Regions from separate parts of the Homo sapiens genome. Here region 1 is linked to region 2. Evidence: fine-mapped QTL for protein levels in blood plasma. A gene starts in region 2. The other region holds a variant in brackets. All regions are shown on one strand. Distances are from middle to middle. Region 1 overlaps CRISPLD2 (cysteine rich secretory protein LCCL domain containing 2). Region 2 holds the start of CRISPLD2 (cysteine rich secretory protein LCCL domain containing 2).

Region 1 (9,378 bases), 29 kb before region 2:
GCCACTGACAGGTCAGGGGGGAAGGTTGTGTGCTGTGGGAAGCGGGAAAGATGGCTATCCCAGGCCTCTCCCGTGCACAGAGAGTCTAGAGAGCTCCAGAATCCCAGCGATTCTGCAGAAGGGAGCTACAAGATGCCCTTCCACACAGTACCTTTGCCCTGGCTGGCTGTCAGCCCCGTGGCCCCCCTTCCACCAACACAGCTCTGAACACTGTTAGGGCCCCTAGATCACAACACCTTAGCGCTGAAAAGCTGCCAGGACCCCCTTTTAAGCCATTTCTCAAATGTGTAAAGCCAGCCTGTCCCAGAGACGGCTTGCGTTTCCCAGTTTTTACCACACACCATCCCTGGTCTGTGCCTTCACTGCACTCCTCACCCCATCTCCCCAACACCCCAGGAGGGAAGAGCTGGAATTCAATATTTTTGCAGAGGAGGAAACTGTGGCACAGTGAGGTTAAGTGACTTGCCCCAGGTCACAGGACAAGCAAGTGGCGGGGCTGGGATTTGAACACAGGCTGTCCGGCTCAGAGCCTTAGGCACACTCTACTCTAGGGGCTGGATCAAAGGTCCCTCTTGGGTCACAGTTGCCCTCTGCCTCCCTCCGGAGTTCCCAGGGGCAGGAAAACTGGAGGCCGCACCATAGGCTTTCTCCAGGGGCCAGGTAGAGGTGGTGAGCGGAATCCCCAGGCCCTTCCTGCGGCTCCTGGGCTGTGAAGAGCAGGCTCCCCGGCTTGGGCCCCAGGCTGCCAGCATGTGCCCTCGGCCAGCCTCCTCCAGCCCCAGCCTCGGTCTCCCTTTCTGTAAAATGGGATCACGGCAGCAGGGCTGCTGTGAGACTGAGGGAGTGACCGTGGGGAAGCCCTTGGACCGGCACCTGACTCACGGGGAAGGCTGTGCTCTGAGCGTTGGGGAAATCCACAGGCTTGTGCGGGGAACGCTCTGATGCTTTCCAGGGAAGATGGGGAGGGGCCCTGCCAGTGCTGGCCAAAGACAAACGGCAGGAAACACGCTCTGGGTCTGATAGGCATCCGTCCTTACAAGAGTGGCCTAGAACTTCCCGCGGCCCCAGAAGCACCCTGGCCTCACCGAGGGGCCTGTGGGCAGGGGAGGGACAGTGGGCCGTGCAGTGTGGGGAGGACAGGGCTGGCCACTGTCTGACTGGGCACTGTTATGACGTGCACACAGCCTCTTCCACCCTCTCACATTCCGGAGGCAGAATGATCGCGTCCGTGCCATGCCACAAGACATCCCTGCTCAGAAATCGTCTGTTCAGATCCCCGGGGGTCTTCGGGATGACTCCCCCAAAAAGAACATCACCAAGGGACCGAGAGGTCCCAGAGCCCATCCTGTCTCTGGGTGAAGCCCAGTAGGTTTCTCAGATGATCGTGGCCCTGTCGTGGGTACGTCCCACTGCCCCTGCCAAGTTTCCCCTTGTGTCTACGGTTCTATATTTCCTCAGACAAACCACACCACTGACGCTCCCAGCTCAACCCTAACACTCAGGGTTGGCATTGGTGGAAGGCTGGCTGGGCACCAGGTCCTGCAGACAAATAATCTCCTTAATTTTTGAGACAGGGTCTTGCTCTGTCACCCAGGCTGGAGTGCAGTGGTGTGACCACAGCTCACTGCAGCCTCAACCTCCTGGGCTCAAGCAATCCTCCCACCTCAGCCTCACAAGTAACTGGGAATACAGGCATGCACCACCACACCCAGCTAACTTTTTGTATTTTTCGTGGAGATGGGGTTTTGCCAGTTGCCAAGGCTGGTCTTGAACTCCTGGACTCAAGCGATTCTCCTGCCTCGGCCAAAGGAGGCTGGGATTACAGGCATGAGCCACCGCACTGGCCAGTCTCCTTAATTTTTGAATAGCACCGTGAAGTACCTTCCCTCACACACAAGGCCCTCTGTGTACACACCCACCCCACCCCTTGTCGGGTTGGGAATCCCCCTCAAGGGATCTGACCCCCCCCACACCCAAACTCACCCTCCCAGCCACCCTCCTCACCCTGGTGCCTGGGACAGTGTCCTGCATAGCCCAGGGGCTCAAGCCCTCTCTCTAAGACAGAGGCCATGGACAGCACGCAGTAATATGCAGCAGACAAAAGGAAAGAACCGGTGATCACGCAACACCACGGGGAGACCTCACCAATGTGATGTTGAGCAAAACACCATTTGGGGGTACAGGGAGTGTGCTGTGTGGCCCCCTTCATATGAGGTCCCACACCAGACACCACAGACCGATGGGAAAGATGCTAGAATGGTGGGCACTTTGTAGGGCACGAGAGAGCCTCTGGGGCATGGGAGACACTGTCCATCTCCATCTGGATGGTAGTTACACGGGTAGAGGGCTATTGCCGTGGACTTTCATTATGTGTCTCCCCAAATCCCAGTGTTGAAACCCTCACCCACAATGTGACTGTACTTGGAGACAGGGCCTTGATGAAACTAATTAAGGTTAAACGACGTCAACAGGTGAAGTCCTGACCCAATAGGATTGATGTCCTCATCTCTCACCACCATGTAAGATAGTGGCCGTTGGTGAGCCAGGAAGAGAGCTCCCACTGGAGCCCGATGCTGCCACCCCTTGATCTGCCACACCTTGATCTGCCACCCCTTG[G/C]TCCAGGGGACTTCTAGCCTCCAGAATGGTGAGACATAAAAGTCTGATGTGTAAGCTGCCCAGGCTGTGGCCTCTGTTGTTGCAGCCCCAACAGACTAATGCATGTGAGACTGTGTCGCACTGTATACTTCAGATGAGTATATTTTACCATATGGAGGTTATTCCTTCTTTTAAGGAAGCAGGGGGCAGCTACAGAAGGAAATAATTTCATTTCTGATAGGACCTTCTAGTGTCTATTTTTTATAGAGTCAAGTCAAATGATTCCTCATTCACCACCTGCCACTGGGCCAGGAATTCCACCACCTTGGACCAGTCTGCTGCTCTTGCATGGTGCCTGCGTCCCTCCCAGGCAATGACACACCCGCTGCGCTCATCCATGTGGGCTGCTGAGCCGCGCCACGCCACCGCAGGCACACCAGATGGTTTTGAGAGGGCTTCTATTTTTCCTCCCAACCTCAGCGATTCCCCCTTCATCCCACCTTTTCATAACTACTCCTGACCCAAAACAAATAAATGAGGTCATTCCCATTTCATTCAGTCACTGAGCAAACATGCCCCGGGGCCCACTCTACACAGGGCACGGGGCAAGAACGGCGGTGGCCAGCGGCCAGCATGCAAACCTCAGGCCATGAACTGGGGGAGTGACTCTCCAAGAATCAGCACATATTTGTCCCATGAGCAAATGAGTCAAGGGCTGGACACCACACTGATGAGCTGAGCATGCTATAGGCGGAGGAGGCACCATGATCAGGAGGCCGCATGTGGACCCTCTTTGGAGGGAAACAGAGAAGCTAGGCTTTGTGTGAACATGTGTTTTCTAGGGTGCTGTCTACTGCATGTTTTCAGAGAAAAATAATCATACTGCCAGGGCAGACCATGCTGGTTGCCCAGCCAGCAGCTATTCCCACTTCTGACTTTGTTCAGTTGGTCCCAGAGGACGTCTTGCAAAGCCAGTTGGGGCAATCTTTTTCCCCCTCATCTATGATTGGTCTAATTCTGGCAAAGAACATAAGGAGAAAGTATGCCAGTGTGCAAAAGACCTAAGGAGAGAGCCCTTTGACCATCCTTCCTTGTGCTTGGGGAGATGTGATGTTGGTGCTGTGCAGCCATCTTGGGACCATGAGGAGAGAATGGTACGGCAGGAAGACGGAAAGAACCCGAGTCCTTGTTGACACTGCTTAGCTATTACGCTAACCCAGATGCACTAAACTCTAGATTCTTTGTTATGTGAGATATTAAAGACTTCGCTGCTCAAGCCAGTTTTCACTGGGTGCTCCCTGGCAAGCAAACACATCCCAACCCCCACCCCATACAACGGCATCAACTTGTCTTACTTTGGAGAATAATTGCAGACAAAGTAGACCGCGTTCTCCCAAACTTCTCCCCAGACAGTCATCTTCCGGCAGGTGTTCACAGCACAACCGATCTTGTTGGTGGTGGCCCAAACTATCTGAAAAGATGACATTTGTGTGTCACAGCTCGAGGGATAAGGCACAAAAGGGTGATATCATTTGGCCTGGATGTATAAGGTGCTGGCACTAAAGAGGTACGAGGTGAAGGGTTGGGGAAGCAGATATTAGTCCCTAACCCATTGAAGATACATACATTTTCTTAAAAAGCAAAGCAAGTGGGCCGGTGCGGTGGCTCACGCCTGTCATCTCAGCATTTTGGGAGGCTGAGGTGGGCGGATCATGAGGTCAGGAGTTTGAGACCAGCCTGACCAACATGGTGAAACCCCATCTCTACTAAAAAAACAAAAATTAGCCGGGCGTGGTGGCAGGCACCTATAGTCCCAGCTACTCAGGAGGCTGAGGCAGGCGAATCGCTTGAACCCAGGAGGCAGAGGTTGCGGTGAGCCAAGATCGTGCCACTGCACTCCAGCCTGGGCGACAGAGGGAGACTCCGTTTCAAAAAAAAAAAAAGCAAGCAAACAAACAGACTCCCACACAATGAAAATGCCCCACAATGTCAAATTGCCATAGAAGTTTTCTCGGTTGAGTGCAGTAGCTCACAACTGTAATCCCAACACTTTGGGAAGCTGAGCGGGGAGGATTGCATGAGCCCAGGAGTTTGCGACTAGCCTGGACAACATAGCCAGACCCATCTCTAAAAAAAAAAAAAAAAATACAAAAATTAGCCAGGCCTCGTAGTGCACAACTGTAGTCCCAGGTACTCAGGAGGCTGAGGTGGGAGGATTGCTTGAGCCCAGGAGTTTGGGGCTGCACTAAGCTAACTAAGATCATGCCACTGCACTCCAGCCCAGGTAGCAGGGAGACACTGCCTCAAAGAAAAAAAAGAGTTTGTAGTGCTCACTCAGTTTCTGACCTTGCTGGTAACAAACAGCTTCTTCTCCCAGCTGTACTCTGTATAGAACTGAATTTTTAAAAATGAAGGCAACAACAGCGCAGAGGCTTTACAGATTTGACAATCCCCCAGGGGCAGGGGGTGAATGACTGGGATTGGGGGGCAGGGCTGAGGTCGTGGCAAGTCCCCGAGTTACCTGTGTGTAGTGCGTGCACATGGGCCCCGAGCACCTCTCTGGACACCAGGGGTTGCACTCGCTCGGGTAGGGGTAGGTGTAGTCCTTCACCTCGTCATACCAGGACTGCACATGGAACCCCGGAGAGCGATACCTGCAGGGCAGAAACCGCTCACTCAGTCCCAGCCCCTCCCCTCACCCACCAGTGGAGACAGCAGCAGCCACGGGCAGGTAGGAGGGAGGGAGGCCGAGGAGGGTGAATAGCGGCCAATTCCAGGAGCAGCCACGGGCAGCCGGGAGGGAGGGAGGCCGAGGAGGCGGAATAGCCCCCAATTCCAGGAGCAGCCACGGGCAGCGAGGAGGGAGGGAGGCCGAGGTGGGGGAATAACCCTCAATTCCAGCAGCACCTGGTACAGGTGCTTAATACCATTATCCTTGAGGAGCTCACCTGGGGTCTCTAGTAGGCTCCTCAGGTGGCTCATACACCACCTGCACGTGCAGGAATCTCTTCACCTGGCTCTTAATGAGTCCTTTCTTTTTTTTTTTTTTTTTTGAGACGGAGTCTCGCTCTGTCGCCCAGGCTGGAGTGCAGTGGCGGGATCTCGGCTCACTGCAAGCTCCGCCTCCCGGGTTCACGCCATTCTCCTGCCTCAGCCTCCCAAGTAATGAGTCCTTTCTTATGTCAATTAGGTGTTTATTTTCAGGTACGTTGGAGAAAAACTATCCAGCCCATGAAGCCCGTATTTCACAGATATTGTTGTCTAAGACAAAACCTGATGAAGACGTGAGTGCACTTAAGGCCGAACATGGTGGCTCATGCCTGTCATCCCAGCACTTTGGGAGGCTGAGGCGGTAGGATCACCTGAGGTCAGGAGTTGGAGACCAGCCTGGCCGACATGGCGAAACCCCGTCTCTACTAAAAATACAAAAATTAGCCGGGCGAGGTGGTGCATGCCTGTAATCTGCAGCCACCAGCTGCACCTGTCCCTGGACATCCTCCGTGGGGTCATCGCTTCATGCCCACCACCCCCTTGCTTCAGCCTTGGCTGCCAAGGTTGGCACCATTTTTTTTTTTTTTAATAACTAGGGAGAAAACCAAACTGGAGGCAAGTCCACAGTCACACTGTCACCAGCAAGTATAAACAAAGTGGTTTCGATGAAGAGAAAATGCTCACGGGGGAAATGACCATTTTTAAGGGCCATGTGGTCGTCGAGGCAGTTAGAGGTCTTGTAACAATTACTGTCTGGAAGCGGAGCGCACGGCAGCGGGCAGCGGCATTTGCAGAAAGGCGTGCACACAGTGAGGAGGCAGGAGCAGAGGGCTGCTGGCCACTCATCCGCTTCCCTGCGGCTCAAGGTCACGCAGACTCAAGGCTGGCACTGGCATGGCTGTGGGGAAAGGAACCCGCGGCTGCCCCGGGGGGCCATGCAGAGTCAGGGGCTCTTTTGCAAAGCAAGTTAGCAAAATTCCTTAAGAAAGGGGGAAGTCTGTGTGCCCTTTGGCCCAGCAATCCTACTTCTCAGGAGTAATCCTAATGAAATCATTCAAGTGAGACAAAGACAAAAACAAAAAACAAAAATGAATCTGCAAGAGCCAACGGGTCAACTTTGGTCTGTCCACAGAGGGATCATTAGGGCATTTGCAGGGCGACATTCATGACAACTGTATCACTGAAAATTTCCTGATATTGTATGAAAAGGAAAAAGAAAAAGATTTCAAAGTGATCCAGGCTACAGTCTCAATGCTGTAAAACTACGTCGGCGCCCAGCCAGGTGCTGCAAAGGAGCTCAGAAAAATGAAAAGAGCCGAACCAGGCTAGTGGAATTCCAGATCTCCCTGCTTTAGACACTTCACTTTCATGTTATTGTAAGATTTTTTTTTTTTTTTGAGACGAATTCTTGCACTGTCACCCAGGCTGGAGTACAATGGTGCAATCCTGGCTCACTGCAGCCTCCGCCTCCAGGGTTCAAGCGATTCTCCTGCCTCAGCCTCCCAAGTAGCTGGGATGACAGGCGCCTGCCACCACGCCTGGCTAATTTTTTGTATTTTTAGTAGAGACGGGGTTTCACTATGTTGGCCAGGATAGTCTTGAACTCCTGACCTTGTATTCTGCCCACCTTGGCCTCCCAAAGTGCTGGGATTACAGGCATGAGCCACCTTGCCCAGCCTGTAAGATAGTTTTTATAAAAAGCTAACTTCACCAAAGAAAAAACCATGGTGTGGATTTGCCTCTGTGAAGTCACCGCGGTCGATCCACCATGACACCTGCCCAGGTTTGTCCTGAAAACCCACGGATGCAGAGGAAGGTGCGGCTGCCCGTGGCCCAGTGAAACCCAAGCTAGGAAATCCCTCTGTGGGAAGTGAAAGCAAACGCTCACCTACATTTTAAGAGGCTGTCTAAAGCCCATTCCAACTTTTCAATAATTAGGGCAAAATGGATGTCAATCCAGGTCCTGGATGGGTCTGAGGACGTGAATTCTGGCCTTGGGCATGGCACGGTCACAGGTTGGTCGTTAAGTCTTATGTGGTCTTAGTTGTTATCCTGGGCGTGGTCAAAAGACATTTTTCCACTTTCTCCAATGAAACCAGCCGTCAGCCCCCAGGAGGGGACTTCTGGGTTCTTTGGGAGCACGGATACATGGTCCAGCTTACTCTGGGGAAGGCCCGTCGGCTGCATTTAACAGACAACCGTCAATGCCTCCTATGGGAGAGGGGACAAATCGCTCCCAGACAGGGAAGGAGAGGGGACAGAACACTGCCAGACAGGGAAGCCTCGGGGGTCTGGAGAAGTTAGTGAGCTTCCCGACGGCTGGATGACGCGGGGAAGGCAATGGGCATCTTCCCAACAGGGTGGAACCTGGCTCAGCCTTAAACAGTGAGCAGAACCAGACAGAAATGACCCACCATGAACAGAGCAGTTCACCCCACAGGAACGGGGACTCAAGAACCCTGCACAGGAGATGGAATGGAAACCCCAAACTACAGGCCAGGCGCGGTGGCTCATGCCTGTAATCCCCGCACTTGAGGAGGCCAACGTGGGTGGATCACTTGAGGCCAGGAGTTCGAGACCACCCTGGCCAATATGGTGAAACCCTGTCTCTACCAAAAAATACAAAAATTAGCCAGGCGTGGTGGCACATGCCTATAGTCCCAGCTACTTGGGAGGCTGAGGCTCGAGAATCACTTGAACCCAGGAGACAGAGGTTGCAGTGAGCCGAGATTGCGCCACTGCACTCCATCCTGGATGACAGAATAAGACCCTGTCAAGAAAAGAAGGAAGGGAAGGGGAGGGGAGGGGAGGGGAAGGGAGGGAAGGGAAGGAGGGAGGAAGGGAGGGAGGAAGGAAGGAAGGAAAGGAAGAAGGAAAGGAAGAAGGAAAGGAAGAAGGAAAACCCAAACTACAAACTTTAATCAATCATCAGTGTCTGGGGTCAGCCAACCAAGCTTGAATACATTTTGTCAGTCACTCAGGAGTGTTCCTGGATGCCAAGCCTCAGTTTCCCAGAATATCGATGGGACGGGTGGTCTCTCTCACTCTCTTTGCAGGCTAAACTTGATAAGGGGCACAAGTGCTGAGCCCGGCACACGGCAGTGGGGTCCTGCGGCAGCCGGAGAGGAACTTGTGGCTCTTACCTGCCCCAGTGAGCGCCCAGGTTCTGCCCGATGGACACCAGCAGACTGGTGGGCCCGTGCTCCCAGATGCACTGACTGGCCCACGCTGCAGCAGACTTCTCCAGTTCGTCATCCCAGGTCTGCAGGAGAAGGAGAAACGGGCACCAGGAGGTGAGGGTGAGGGAGGGGCATAAGAACCATAAATACAGCAACGCCCCAGCCTGGGCTCCTGTGGAGCCTACAGCCAATGCTCTGCTGCTGTATTGCTGGGTTCCTAAATCAGCCAGGGGGGCGTGGCAGGCCAGACGTGCCGGCTCCAAGCCTATCCTCAGGCCTCCTGCTGGGCCTCTAACTTGCCAGAGGTCCTGGGCAGGTGCCTTCTCTCTGGGCCTCAGTGTCTGTGAAACAGGAGTGGCCATGCTGAGTGACCTCTGAGGGTAACACGGCACGCTGTGTGGAAGACAAGGGAAGGTCAGCAGCCATCTCTAGGGACGGTCTTGGCCTGGAAGCCTGTCCCGATGACCCCAGTCTCCTCTCCTTATGCATGTTCCAGGCACACCAGGCTTCCTCTCCTTACTACGCATGATCCAGGCACACCAGGCTTCCTCTCCTTACTACGCATGTTCCAGGCACACCAGGCCTCGGGCTTTACCCCAACCTTTTCATTGCA
Region 2 (8,000 bases):
AGCCACCGCGCCTGGCCCCATATTTTGTATTTTTATTTAACTTGGCTTGTTTTTTGCGTTCCAAGAAATTTACTTTAAAAAGGTAACTTTCTATCACTCCCACTGGCAGAGAACCTGATCACTGGTGCCGTGAACAGACGGCAGGAGTGAAATTAAACACAGTAAAAACAACAGTTACTTCCTCCCAGCCAGGCACTGACACCAACCAAAGGCTTTGTTGTAGAGGATGCTTGCTCTTTGTTGTAAAAGGAGATCAGGGTGTGGGAGAGGTGATAGGGACAATTCCACCTGTGACTTTCACCTTGCCATAAGCAGAAGGACCGGAAGAACAGAGAATGGAAAGAACAGAGAATGGAAAGAACAGCTCTTGGACTGGGGGGATTTGCTGCTGGATCTGTGCCCGTGCTCAGTCACCTTGGGGACCCCTAGGTATTGGCTCTGCACACTTTGGAGGACACAGTTCATTCTAGAGTGAGCTGTTCTCAAGTTCTCAGTGCCACCGTGTTACTCTCTGTTCATCTTGATGGTGCCCACTAAGTGGTACAGCTCATCACAACACCTGCAGGACAGACCTTTGCTGCCCTGAGCCTGGCTCGTAGACTACAGGCACACCAAACTTCCTGCCATTCTCCAAGAGTCCCAGGCCCTTCTCCACCTGCAGGCCTTTGCACACACACGGTGCCTCTGCCTGGGGCACCCTCGCCAGCTCCCCACCCACCCACTATCATCTTCCCCTGCTCGCAAAACCCTGCCTGTTTCCTCTAGGCGTTATCAGGCTCTTCTCAAGTCAGTCTCAGAAGATGCCAGCTCCATGCCAGCTCCCAGTCCTTAGAGGGGTCCAGTTGAGTCTTTTCCCTATTCAAAAAATATTTGGGGTAGGGTCAGTTCCAGCTCACTTGATTACAAGCAAAATGGGAGCATGACTTTTTTTCCTGGGATGTTGCCATTCTGTGCTCAAAATAAAACACGTTCCAGAAATTGGGATTGAAAATGTGGGATTTCATAATTTATAATTTTTAAAAAATGATGGTCCGGAAATTGCACAATCCTCATCAGGACGTTTTTTTTCCCTCTGACTCTGTGGTTTTTGTCTTAGCTGATGCAGCACTCAAGACAATCAAAGATAAATCTCCCTCGGGCTGGACCATGATGTCCTCGCAGCCTTGCAAGAGGGGTCTTTGTCCAAGAGTACTCGTCATTGTACAGCCTGGGGTAGAAGGCAGGGCTCCCCCAGGGCGATGTCTCAGGATTCCCTGCCTGCTGCTGCTGTGACCCAGGTGGCACGCCAACACTGCCCACAAATGCCAAATGCCAGGGCTTCCCTGCACCCATGGAGAAGGCCAGCAACACATTCTGGAATGACATGACCTGAGTTGATGCTTCAAGAAGGAACTCAAAAAAGAGGCCACAGTCTCCTCAATAAGTTAAACATAAAGTTACCATATGACCCAGCAATTCCCTCCCAGGTAAACACTCAAGAGATATGAAAACATCCGCCCTCAAAAAACCTTGTACACAAATGTTCACAGCAGAAGCCTCTGTAAAAGCCAAAGGTGGAAACAGCCCAGATTTCCTTCAGTGGAAGAATGAATAAACAAAACGTGGTCTATTAATGCAATGGAATATTACTCAGCCATAAAAAAGGAACGAAGGTCTCATACACATTACAACATGGATGAACCTTGAAAACATGATGCTGAGTGAGAGGAGCCAGACACAAAAGGCCACACATTGTGTGGTTCCATTTACATGAAATGTCCAGAATAAGCAAGTTCGTAGAGACAGAAAGGAGATGAGCGGCTGAAGGGAGGAGAATGGCGAATGATGCCTAATGGGCCTGGGGTTTCCTTACGAGATGATGAAACGCTCTGGAATTAGTGGTGGTGGCTGCACAATACTTCCAATGTACTAAACGCCACTGAATTGTACACTTCAAAATGGGTTAAATGGTAAATTTTATGTTTATGTGTATTTTTACCACAATACATCTTTTCAGGAAAAAGAAAAACAGAACATGGCCCATCCTATTAACCACCACCCAGATCTACCTGTCCCTTGCCTGTCCCAGAACTCAGCGTGCTCTATTTAAGACTTTACAACGTGCTTTAGGTCCCTGTCCCTGGAAGGTCTGAGCATCTGTTCCACTCAATGAACTGAAGACGAAGTGAAATATGCCCAGATTGAATTTTCCTTTCCTGACAAGCCGTCAGCCCGTTTGAGTGATCCTGGGTTTGCACATCTGGGACTGATCAAAAACCAGTGCGTTTGCAAAAGAAGAAAAAAGAAAAAGAAAGAAAAAGCCTCCTGAGTCTGGCGCAGGCAGACATGCAGACACCTCCCACACACAGCAAATGACGCTGGTGACAGAGGAAAGAAAAGTTCCAGTTCCCACAGGCCAAAGAGGTCAGTGCCCTGCCTCCAAAAACTTTCTGACCTCCAAAGACGTCAGAGGGTCCTGCCTCCAAAAACTTTCAAATGCAACTTACAAAGGGCCACATACTTAATTTGTGGTCTTTTGAGGGATGAAGTGCAGAGGTTTTAAGAGACCTCGCAGTCTTCTTCCCTAGCTCAGGCCTTCCCAGTCAAACCAACTCTCCTCTCCAGGACAGAGGCAGGACTCAGAACCAGCACTGATTTGGGTCCTGGGACGGGGCTCTCAGTACCTGTCAGCAATGTTGAGCCCAAGCCCAGGGTCAGTTGATCCCCTCCCAGCCTCACCCCAACAGGGACCAGGGACCCAGATCCCTGCCAACGTTAAAAAAACTCCCACATGGCACAGAAAGCCTCAACTAGCAGCAAGCTCTGCTGGGACAGTCATGTGGCTGGTCATTAGATGGGCACCTTCCCCCAGAATCTGGGGCAGGGCCCAGCCTGGACGGCAGCTCTACCCCGCCCTGGCTGTGTCATGTTGGGCACACACCTTAATAATTCTGAGCCTCAACTAACTCCTTGTAAAAAGTGCCCAGCTAATAGAGCAGGCAGTGAGCTCATCCGTGGAAACCCTGGGCATGTCTGGTCTGTACTAAGCATCATGTAAATGTCAGCTGCTTGTATTATTACAAATGGCATTATTACTATTCCTACTCTCACATCTTAAGAAACTCTGAAAAAATCAAAATCACCCTCTTGGTTTCTCCTCCCTGGGTACATTGTCCAGTGGTTTTAACTGGAGCCCCTGTAAGACAAAACATCACCTGTGTGAAGGTCAGGTTCATGGGTGGAGTTGGCAGTGGGCAGGGAAGTGTCTTAAAGAAAGCAGGGTCAAGAGTGCAGATAGGACCCACCTGGGGGTGACAGCATTCCATACCAGCTGGGGGATCTTAGGCAAGCACTTCACCTTGCTGAGCCTCAGTTTCCTCAGCTGTGAAGTGGGCATCAAGAGGCCTACTCCCCGGGGTGTTGCAGCGATGACAATACAGGTAAACTGCGTGGCACAGACCGCGTGCCTGCCGCACAGGCAACACAGTCACACACCCACCCCTTCTCCTGAGTGGGAACAGCCAGATCAGGGGCAGAAGCAGAAAATCAGGTGCATACAACCCAAGGAGCCCTGGGACAGCCGACAGTCACAACTCATGGCCTCAGTCTACTGGAAAGGACCACGCCCCGGTCCTGTTCTGCAGGCTCTCCTCACTGTCAGACATCAGACCCTGGATGGGGAAAGCAGGCTCACCCCATTCTACCAGGGCAAGAGGTCCAAAGGCCCAAAGGGGAAACTCACAACCCCACTCTCGGTTGCAAGGCAAGCTAGGCATTTGCACGGGATGCTTCTCTCAGCCAGGGCAGCAACTCACATTTTGGCTGAGAGACGCCCAATTCAAGTTGGACTGCGATGAGCAGGCATCAGCGAAGTCCTCCCTGGCTTGTCCACCAGCCCAGCCTTAGCAAGGGAGGCTCTGGGTCTGCAGCACATGAGGGACTAGCCCTGGCTCTGTCCACGTGGGACGACCGATCTCCCCCACACTCCAGAGTGAGCCCTCCGCTTCCAGGGTAACTCTCCCCACGCAGGAGTTATGCAGGTGCCCGCTCTGGCTAAAGAAACCCAGAAACGTGTTCCCCCAGACTGCAGAACCCTGACATGGCCCCAAGTCTCTACACATCCATTTGAAGCTCTGGAGACAGACAGAGCTGGGTTCCAGCCCTGGCTCTGCCCGGACAACTTACTTCACCTCTCTGACCCTCAGCATCTTCATCTGAAATGTGGGAAGAAGGCTACCTTGCAAATGAAATCACAGAGGGGCGTGGCCCTCTAAACTGCAGCTGAATGCACATGCCACTAGATCACCCTGGTCCTCCAGACATGAGTAGGACACATTCTAATGCCTGCCATATCCATGCCATCAGCTTTCCAGTTATTGACACCCACTACGAACACAGGAATGCAACAAATGCTAGTGAACTGCACGAGGAAGGCAAGAGAGTAAACAGCCTCTAAGGAGCAGGATTCTGCGCTCAGATCGGCGTTGAATCCTGGGTCCTTGGAGTCCTGGCTGCGAGGTCCTGGACAAATGAGTTGTCCTCGCTGAGCCTCAGTTTCTCCATCTGCAAAAGGGCATGTCGCAAAGCTGTGTTCCGCTATGCAAGCAGAGCACTCGGTGTGGTGCCAGCACACAGTCAGCCCTGCGAGGTGGCATCTGTCCTAGTTATTCCAGCTTCTCGGGGGGGTAACAGTTTGCAAAAGGGAGAAGCATGGAAATCACACTTACCTCCGCAGGGCTCCAATCACCAGCTCGCTGGCGTCTCCCGCGTCCAGCAGACGCGGTAGCAGCGGCGACAGCGCGGGCACAGCAGGCACAGCGGGCACAGCGAGCAGACAGCTCAATAGGAGCAGCCGGAGACGCCCTGGGATGCGAGTGGGTGCCGGGGCTCAGCGTACCGCCTCTTGTAGGCTCCCCGGAGCCCGGAGGCCACGCCCCCAGATCGCTGGCGGCGCTGGTAGGACCGAGCATCACCGGCCCCGCCCCCGGCCCCGCCCCGCAGGCTCAGCGGGCTGAAGGAGGCGGGGGGCAGCTGAGGCGCGGGCGCCGGGTGGGCGAGGAAGGCGGGGCCGCTGGCCTCCAGGGCCGGCTAGGGACAAGGAGACGCTCAGCTCCCTCGCCACTGGCCACACAAGCATAGTTTTCATTGAGCGCTTACTATGCGCCTGGCGCGGTGCCAAGCGCTTCCCACAAGGGGCTTGCAAATTTACCAAACCCCAGCTCTCTGCAGCTCAACTGGAAAATAGGAATAAGGAGGCGACCTCCCAGGATTTTAGCAAATGAAATCCGCAAGGGCTGGGCGCTGTGAACTGTGGCGCGGTGCAGAGTACACAGTTACTGAGGTGACTCCCACCCTCTACACGTGCTCAGAAAACTTAGGCCCCCTCTTCCCAATTTGCAGACGAAGAAAGGGAGACTTGTTTCCGGATGGGGCCGCTAGCGCGGGGATCCAGGCTCCGCACTTTACCTTCAACGACCCTAGGACGCGTTCCCAGGAATCCAGGGAGGTGGAAATCACCTCATTTCACAGATCCAGTAGCTGAGGCTTGGAGAAGAGCGTGCCCCAAGTCCCGTAGCTAGGAGCAGTGCAGCATGTTCATATCTCTTTTGCCCGGAGGCATTTAGCATTTTTAACCTGTGCAGGTACATACGGAAATCAATTTAGAGCCAGACGAAATCACCTTTGAAACAGGTAAATCCACGTTCCTTAAGAGCTAAGGGACTGCCCCGTGCTCCCGCCTCAGTCACAAAATGTGGACGGGTATGCAGGCACTGCGCGGTAAGGTGCTGGGGCCCAAGGGCAGGAGGGGGCCTGTCCGCACTGCTCATCTCCGCACCAAGACACCGGAATTAGCTCCTCCAGCATTAACTCATTCCCCAAATACCCATCGAGTCGCTCTGTGCCGGGCCCTGTGCTATACAGCAGGCACAAACAAGACACCTCCGGGATCTCAGAGTCTGGGGCCCCCACGAGCTAGGGCACGTGGGAGAAACAAGGATGGGGAATGGGTGGAACAAGGACTATGGAAGGCTGCCTGCGTGACGTGGACTCAAACAGGGAAGGCTTGCCTAAGATTTTGGTGCGGCTCAAATGCAGATACAGAATAATGCAGACTGGCCGGGCGCGGTGGCTCACACCTGTAATCCCAGCACTGTGGGAGTTTGAGGCGGGCGGATCACCTGAGATCAGGAGTTCGAAACCATCCCGGCCAACATGGTGACACTGTCTCTACTAAAAATACAAAAATTAGCCGGGCATGGTGGTGCATGCCTGTAGTCCCAGCTACTTGGGAGGCTGAGGCAGGAGAATCGCTCGAACCTGAGAGGCAGAGGTTGCAGTGAGCTGAGATGGCGCCATTGCACTCTAGCCTAGGAGACAAGAACAAAACTCCATCTCAAAAAGATAATAATAATGCAGATGTTTTCTGTTATCTTTTTTTCCTCTTTTTGTTTTACTTTTCTCAGTCTTTGAAGCATCATTCTTCAGAGGCACTCAACTGGCATGCAGTCATCCAATAATTAAGCACCTACTATGTGCTGGGCTCTGTTTCAAGCACTGGAGGGCTCAGTAGTGAATAAGACTGTTCCAGAACAACAGTCCTTGGATTGACAAAAGACAAATCCAAGGGGAGAAGAGATCTGTGTTAGCAGATGCCTTTGGAGGCCTGGCACGATGGCTCAGGCCTGTAATCCCAGCACTTTGGGAGGCCCAGGCAGGTGGCTTGAGTTCAGGACCAGCCTGCAACATGATGAAATCCAGTTGCTACAAAAAGTAGCCAGCATGGTGGCATATGCCTGTGGTTCCAGCCACTCAGGAGGCTGAGGTGGGAGGATTGCCTGAGCCTGGGAGGTGGAGGTTGCAGTGAGCTGAAATCGAGCCACTGCATCCCAGCCTGGGTGACAGAGCAAGACCCTATTTCAAAACAAAACCAACCAACCAAACAAACAAACAACAACAAAACAGATGCCTCTGAGTACCTGACCCCAAAGCATTATACTGCCAAATCCTGCCACCCCCAACAACCCTCCAGGCTGGTCCTGTTATTAGCCTCATTTTTTCAATGATGGAACTGAGCACAGAGAGTGTAAGTCACTTCCCTGAGGCCACACAGCCTCTGAATAGAAGAGCCAGGATTTGAATTCACACTCTCACCCACGTGGCTGCCATTGCCTGTGACCATGAAACCTTGGGTGCAGGGGAATGGAATGAACTGGGTCCCTACTCCATCCCCACTCCAGCAAAGAGGAAGGAAAGCTACACGGAATCAGCCTCTACATAGGCCCAGCAGGTGGAACGGGGGTTGGCAGTTGTCAATAGTGAAATGTTTGCCACTTTGCTAATCCAACCCTCATCTCCTTACAGATCCTTTGTATGGCAACCCTGTAGGCTCCTCACCGGCCCAAGTTGGCTTTGGGGAGACCCAGCCCAGCCCAGACGCTCCAAGGACCCCATTGGCAGAGCTGCAACCAGAGACCACTGCTCTGCAAGCCACGATTGCTGTCCGGGCAGTCTCACCCACGGGGCAGACTGAATCCTTAGCTTGCTGGTTTGTGTCATCATCCGGCATCAGGCTCAGTTCAAATCCCAGCTCCTCCACTTCCAAGTTGTTGGCCTTGAGCAAGTCACTTAATGTCGCTGCGTTCCATGCCCCATCTGTGAAATGAATGTGGTAATAATGGCATCTCTGTCTCTCTCTGTGGGCACAAATGGTTAATAGATGGGAAGTAATACGTGGCCTGACACACAGAAAGTGTTAGTTAATACCGTTATTATTAGAGCCAGTAAAGCAAAGAGAGAGAGAGGAGTTTAGTGGTGATCAACTTTTCCATCATGTTGCAATCTCAGAATCTAATTTCCAAAAAATAACATTTGAATTTGAAAAAAAAAAAATGGTGTTTCATGGGCAAGGGGGACCCCTGGGAAGTCCCAGATGGGAGAGCACCAACTTGTACCAAGGAAAGGGGCAAGATGGCCAGTCCCGTCCCAAGTGCCCCCTGGGAAGGGACTGGTCACTGATACCC

The links. A credible set is the group of variants that fine-mapping cannot tell apart. PIP is the posterior inclusion probability: the model's chance that the variant is causal. Sun 2018 read protein levels with aptamers (SomaScan).
Region 1: its variant is the best candidate, but not a certain one, in a credible set for the plasma level of the CRISPLD2 protein (Sun 2018, PIP 0.55).

The regions. Positions count from the first base shown.
Region 1 is chr16:84,845,256-84,854,633 of GRCh38, reverse strand. It overlaps CRISPLD2 (cysteine rich secretory protein LCCL domain containing 2), which reads right to left. Exons shown (of 15, transcript NM_031476.4): 3 at 8,730-8,848; 4 at 5,117-5,249; 5 at 3,951-4,066. Among named protein-coding and RNA genes, the nearest start is that of CRISPLD2, 30 kb to the right of the region's middle. RefSeq lists enhancers at 3,122-3,623, 9,034-9,378 and a silencer at 8,015-8,251. The variant G/C (reference allele first, on the strand shown) is at 2,617.
Region 2 is chr16:84,816,840-84,824,839 of GRCh38, reverse strand. It overlaps CRISPLD2 (cysteine rich secretory protein LCCL domain containing 2), which reads right to left and starts at 4,855. Exons shown (of 15, transcript NM_031476.4): 1 at 4,707-4,855. RefSeq lists a silencer at 4,893-5,082.